Homo sapiens: one gene and its partner. The protein of the gene in region 2 purifies or fractionates together with the protein of the main gene of each other region. This does not show direct contact. Each region holds a gene or a part of one and is shown on either strand. Other genes may lie near its edges.

Region 1 (3,500 bases), on a different chromosome or scaffold from region 2:
AAAAAAAGAAAGAAAGAAAAAGGCTAGGCACGGTGGCTTATGCCTGTAATCCCGGCACTTTGGGAGGCTGAGGTGGGCGGATCACGAGGTCAGGAAATCGAGACCATCCTGGCCAACATGGTAAAACCCCGTCTCTACTAAAAATACAAAAATTAGCTGGGCGTGGTGGCACATGCCTGTAATCCCAGCTACTAAGGAGGCTGAGGCAGGAGAATCGCTTTAACCAGGGAGTTGGGGGTTGCAGTGAGCCGAGATGGCGCCACTGCACTCCAGCCTGATGACAGAGCAAGACTGTCTCAAAAAAAAAAAAAAAAAAAGAAAGAAAGAAAAAGAAGATTAAATGAGAGTATACATGTAAAAAAATTTGCTAGCACATTTGCTAGCACACAGTAAGTGTTCAATGTTAACTTACTATTATTGTTGTTACTATAACCGTATTTCTTCAATCTGAAAAAGCACATTTTCTTACATCTCAACATATATGAATCTGGGATATATCTTATAATTGATGCATACATTTATTAAGGCAATGTTTGGGGGAGTTATTTTGTTTTTGTTTTTCCCAAATATCATGTCATGATCTACGTTTGTCTTTAAATCAGTATTATTTTAGTATCAAGGCAATGCAGTATTTATGAAATAATATCTTCAACATTTATACTTCTATAAGCATTAGGTTTACTTGTAAAGAAAAAACATAAAAATTTACATTTTCTGTCTTTGGAGATAATAATCGTCTATGAGTCTAATAGAATAATTTCGTTTTATCAGTCAGCAAAGAAAAAAATCTCAAAACATCCTTCTTTGTCTAAATATTTAAAATACTGTAGTCTTTAAAACAAAACAAAACAAACTTTATTTAGAAAAAAAAATCTTTACAAACCCCATAAGAAAAAAGATCCTAATTCATATGCAGAAAGTGAAAGTCACCTCCTTCACCCTGTTTCAGGCATTATAAATACAATCTACCTTATGGGTTCCACCAAGCTGTTTCTGTACTATAAAGCCAACGGTTTTAGAAATACAATGCACAGGGCCGGGCGTGGTGGCTCACGCCTGTAATCCCAGGACTTTGGGAGGCCGAGGCGGGTGGATCACGAGGTCAGAAGATCGAGACCACCCTGGCTAACACAGTGAAACATCATCTCTACTAAAAATACAAAAAATTAGCTGGGCATGGTGGTGGGTGCCTGTAGTCCCAGCTGCTCGGGAGGCTGAGGCAGGAGAATGGCATGAACCTGGGAGGCGGAGCTTGCAGTGAGCCGAGATTGCGCCACTGCACTCCAGCCTGGGCGACAGAGCAAGACTCCGTCTCAAAAAAAAAAAAAAAAAAATATATATATATATATATATATATAGAAATACAATGTGCAGAACTTCACAAACTATTACTCACCTGGTCTGTTTCTCTAAATTAGATGCATTGACCTCAAACACTCTCTCAGTATCCCATTTCTGTTGGATTTCTTTCTCAATCTTCTTCAAAAAGTCCACTTTGGCTGTTCCTTTTCTTTCCTATTGGACACAAAGAGAATAATCCACTCTGTATTTCAGCACGCTTGCTTTAAAAAAGAATTGGGTTCACAGAACTGAGCTGCTCACTGATAAAGACTGATTTTTCCATGGTTATCTTGAAATTTAAATGAACATTAAAAATTAGGGTTATCAGCCAGGCGCGGTGGCTCATGCGTGTAATCCCAGCACTTTGGGAGGCCGAGGCGGGTGGATTGCTTGAGGTCAGGAGTTCGAGATCAGCCTGGCCAACAGGGCGAAACCCATCTCTACTAAAATACAAAAATTAGCTGGGCGTGGTGGCGGGTACCTGTAATCTCAGCAACTCAGGAGGCTGAGGCAGGAGAATCGCTTGAACCAGGGAGGCGGAGGCTGCAGTGAGCCGAGATCATGCCATTGCACTCCAGCTTGGGTGACACAGCAAGACTCCGCCAGAAAAAAAAAATTAGGATTATCATGACCTGTGTACCTCAAACCTCAAAGAAATGGTTGAACAATTACTGAAATATGTAAAAGGCTTTGATATGCTTTTTTAAAATTATATACTACAATGTAACACTGTCATCAAATGTTTCTATTTAATTAAAATACATGAATATCAAAGATACTGATAGAGAACTTCTCTCCAAAATTGTTAAAGAACTGTTCATATGAAATTTAAATAAAACAGGCTGGACACGGTGGCTCACGCCTGTAATCCCAGCACTTTGGGAGGCCGAGGTGAGAGGATCACCTGAGGTCAGGAGTTAGAGACAAGCCTGGCCAACGTGGTGAAACCCCATCTCTACTAAAAATACAAAAATTAGCTAGGCAAGGTGGCACGCATCTGTAATCCCAGCTACTTGGGAGGCTGAGGCAGGAGAATCGCTTGAACCTGGGAGGTGGAAGTTGCAGTGAGCCAAGATTGCACCATTGCACTCCAGCCTGGGCAACAAGAGCGAAACTCCATCCCCCACCAAAAAAAAAAAAATACCTGGACTCTTTTCAAGTTTCCATAAAACAGTGATTGTATAAGGTATTTTCTTTTCTAAGAAATAATAAGCCTGCACAACTGTTCATCCCTTTCCATTCCTGCTACTAACCACCTTCATTTAGACTATCAACGCCACTGCCCCCTCTCACTTCAAAACCTCTTCTTAATAAGTAACTTGGCTGGATGTAGTGCCTCATGTCTACAATCCCAACACTTTGGGAGGCTGAGGAGGGAGGATTATTTGAGGCCAGGAGTTTGAGACCAGCCTAGGCAACATAGAAAGACCTCCTCTTTAAAAGAAAAACAATTTTTTTGGCCAGGTTTGGTGGCTCATGCCTGTAATCCCAGCACTTTGAGAGGCCGAGGCAGGTGGATCACCTGAGGCTACGAGTTCAAGACCAGCCTGGCCAATATGGCGAAACCCCATTTCTACTAAAAATACAAAAATTAGCCGGATGCGTTGGCATGCGCCTATAATCTCAGCTACTCGGGAGGCAAAGACAGGAGAATTACCTGAACCCAAGAGGCGGTGGTTGCAGTGAGCCAAGATGGAGCCACTGCACTCCAGCCTAGGCAACACAGCAAGACCAATCTCAGCTCACTGAAACCTCCATCTCTGGGGTTCAAGCAATTCTCCTGCCTCAGCCTCCCGAGCAGCTGGGATTACAGGTGCGTGCCACCATACCTGGCTAATTTTTGTATTTTTAGTAGAGACGAGGTTTCACCATGTTGGCCAGGCTGGCCTCAAACTCCTGACCTCAGGTGGTCCACCCGTCTCAGCCTCCCAAAGTGCTGTGATTACAGGCATGAGCCACCCAGCCCGGTCTGTAAAATATAATTTCTAATATTTTTACAGAGGAAAGGACCCACCCACAAAGGCAAAAGTATGTAGGGCCTCATGAAGCCTAGTCATATCTCCTACCCTACGGTCATGGGTAATATGAAATTTCACTGTATTTATGTGTGTGTGTCTGTGTGAGAGAGAGAGGGTCTCCCTCTGCCACCCAGGCTGGAG
Region 2 (3,500 bases):
CCTTTCAACAACCCTATTAGGTAGACCATAGTAATTATTTTATGCATAAAGAAATTTGGAGATACAAATGGTAAGGAACTTGATCAAATTCACATAGGTAATAAGTGATAGAGGTACTCTTAGGAGTTCATATCTCAGTTGATAACTACACTGCCTCTCTCATCTAAACCACATTCCATTTTACCTAAATACTGCAACAGGCTCCTATCTGACCTCCTTGCCTGCACTCAACTTCTCTTCAATGCATTTATCCTGAAGTTAGACCTTTATAACCACAAAATATAATCATGACACAATCCCACCATCCCCGATGCCCTCCATAACATAGCCCTGCCTACCTGTCCTGCCTTATCCTGTGTTAGCCTTCTCCTCAACCTTTGGACTCTGACTACCTTGACTGTTTCATTCCTTCCTACCCCAGGACCTTTGCACAGGCAGTCACAGGCAGTTCTCTCAACCTAGAAGGCTCTTCTTTACTTCCAATGCTGTCCACCTTACCTATTGGTATGGTTTGGATGTGCCTCCATCCAAATCTCATCTTGAATTGTACTCCCCTAATTCCCACATGTTGTGGGAGGAACCCAGTGGGCGATAACTTGAATCATGGGGGCAGTTTCCCCCATACTGTTCTCATGGTAGTGAATAAGTCTCACGAGATCTGATGGGTTTATCAGGAGTTTCCGCTTTTTCATCTTCCTCATTCTCTCTTGCTGCCGCCATGTAAGAAGTGTCTTTCACCTCCTGCCATGATTCTGAGGCTCCCCAGTCATGTGGAACTGTAAGTCCAATTAAACCTCTTTTTCTTCCCAGTCTCAGGTTGTTTTTGTCACCAATGTGAAAATTGACTAATATACCTACTTAACTTCTCATTGTTCACATCGCAAGTTTGATGTCACTTCACGCTAGGGAAAGCCTTCCCCTAACTAGTTCAAGTTCTGATAGGTCATGGCAGATTCTGTTAATTTATTACTAGATCATCAGTTTCAAGAGGGCAGGGCAGTATTTGCATACTTTGTTCATCAATTTATCTCCGGTGAAAACCCCAGTGTTTGGCTCAGGAATGAGTCACTTTTATTACAGCTACAAGTCTTAGCTCCCGTGCCAAAGTGCAGATTCTTTGAGGTCCAGGACTGTGCCCTAGAGAAGCAGTCAGCGACAGTAAAGAGAACATGGCCTTTGCCCCATACTAATTCAAAATCCAGCTACACCACCACCGTATCTGAATGCATGACTTCTCAAGTCTCAACTTCCTCATCTGTTAGTGGAAATAATGACATTGTCAAGTCTAAAAGAGATACTAAAGATAGCTTGCTAGTGAATCTAGCACCAAATGCTTCTTGATCTTTCTTCCAGGGTGCATCTTTGGGTCCCAGGGGATCAATGACATAAGCAGTGAGAATAAAAAGCTAAGGTTCTGTGACCACCCCATACAGTTCATCACAGGCCGTGGCTTCCTTCTCTACCACTTGGCATGTCACCATGTGAAAACATGCAAAATATCACAGTGAGCAAGAGGTTAAGGATTTGCTAGGAGGCAAAGGGAATAGAATGAACATGGTACATGTTAAGTATCCACTAAGTGCCAGGCATTTTCATACATTATCTCATTTAATAAATAGCAAAAGGAAATCTGACTCTACAAATGAGGAAACGGAGGCTCAGGCAGGTTAGGTCTCACCTGTGGTCTCAGCACAGGTAAGTGGTAGAGACTCTGACCTGAACCCAAGTCTCTATTCCTCCATTGGACTTGCTCCTGCCACCCCAGGACACAACCTCAAAATGAATCTCTTCCTCACTCTTGTTTCTGGGTAAGTGTGCATTAAAAGGCCCAAGGCATGTTTATGCATCTTTACTGTCAACCTGACCCTGATGTATGTGGGAAGAATCAGGCAACTTAGTAATATTTGAGCATGCATTACCTCAAGATTAAATATTTGCAAATGAATTAAACATGTTAGAGTCTATATTTTTTTTTTATTATACTTTAAGTTTTAGGGTACATGTGCACAATGTGCAGGTTAGTTACATATGTATACATGTGCCATGCTGGTGTGCTGCACCCATTAACTCGTCATTTAGCATTAGGTATATCTCCTAATGCTATCCCTCCCCCCTCCCCCCACCCCACAACAGTCCCCAGAGTATGATGTTCCCCTTCCTGTGTCCATGTGTTCTCATTGTTCAATTTCCATCTATGAGTGAGAACATGCAGTGTTTGGTTTTTTGTCCTTGCGACAGTTTCCAATTTCATCCATGTCCCTACAAAGGACATGAACTCATCATTTTTTATGGCTGCATAGTATTCCATGGTGTATATGTGCCACATTTTCTTAATCCAGTCTATCATTGATGGACATTTGGGTTGGTTCCAAGTCTTTGCTATTGTGAATAGTGCCACAATAAACATACGTGTGCATGTGTCTTTATAGCAGCATGATTTATAGTCCTTTGGGTATATACCCAGTAATGGGATGGCTGGGTCAAATGGTATTTCTAGTTCTAGATCCCTGAGGAATCGCCACACTGACTTCCACAATGGTTGAACTAGTTTACAGTCCCACCAACAGTGTAAAAGTATTCCTATTTCTCCCCATCAAGCTACCAATGACTTTCTTCACAGAATTGGAAAAAACTACTTTAAAGTTCATATGGAACCAAAAAAGAGCCCGCATCACCAAGTCAATCCTAAGCCAAAAGAACAAAGCTGGAGGCATCACGCTACCTGACTTCAAACTATACTACAAGGCTACAGTAACCAAAACAGCATGGTACTGGTACCAAAACAGAGATATACATCAATGGAACAGAACAGAGCCCTCAGAAATAATGCCGCCTATCTACAACTATCTGATCTTTGACAAACCTGAGAAAAACAAGCAATGGGGAAAGGATTCCCTATTTAATAAATGGTGCTAGGAAAACTGGCTAGCCATATGTAGAAAGCTGAAACTGGATCCCTTCCTTACACCTTATGCAAAAATTAATTCAAGATGGATTAAAGACTTAAACGTTAGACCTAAAACCATAAAAACCCTAGAAGAAAACCTAGGCATTACCATTCAGGACATAGGCATGGGCAAGGACTTCATGTCTAAAACACCAAAAGCCATGGCAACAAAAGCCAAAATTGACAAATGGGATCTAATTAAACTAAAGAGCTTCTGCACAGCAAAAGAAACTACCATCAGAGTGAACAGGCAACCTACAAAATGGGAGAAAATTTTCACAACCTACTCATCTGACAAAGGGCTAATATCAAGAATCCACAATGAACTCAAACAAATTTACAAGAAAAAAACAAACAACCCCATCAAAAAGTGGGCAAAGGATATGAACAGACACTTCTCAAAAGAAGACATTTATGTAGCCAAAAGACACATGAAAAAATGCTCATCATCACTGGCCATCAGAGAAATGCAAATCAAAACCACAATGAGATATCAGCTCACACCAGTTAGAATGGCAATCATTAGAGTCTATATTCTTAAAAGCTACATGCT

What was found.
Region 1: the proteins of GDA (region 2) and LARS1 fractionate together in Homo sapiens (co-fractionation; one large-scale study listed by BioGRID). This does not show direct contact.

The regions. Positions count from the first base shown.
Region 1 is NC_000005.10:146,176,151-146,179,650, forward strand, and holds part of LARS1 (leucine--tRNA ligase, cytoplasmic), read right to left. Parts: intron 1,516-3,500; coding exon 1,397-1,515; intron 1-1,396. UniProt on the Homo sapiens protein: Aminoacyl-tRNA synthetase that catalyzes the specific attachment of leucine to its cognate tRNA (tRNA(Leu)).
Region 2 is NC_000009.12:72,152,440-72,155,939, reverse strand, and holds part of GDA (guanine deaminase), read right to left. Parts: intron 1-3,500. UniProt on the Homo sapiens protein: Catalyzes the hydrolytic deamination of guanine, producing xanthine and ammonia.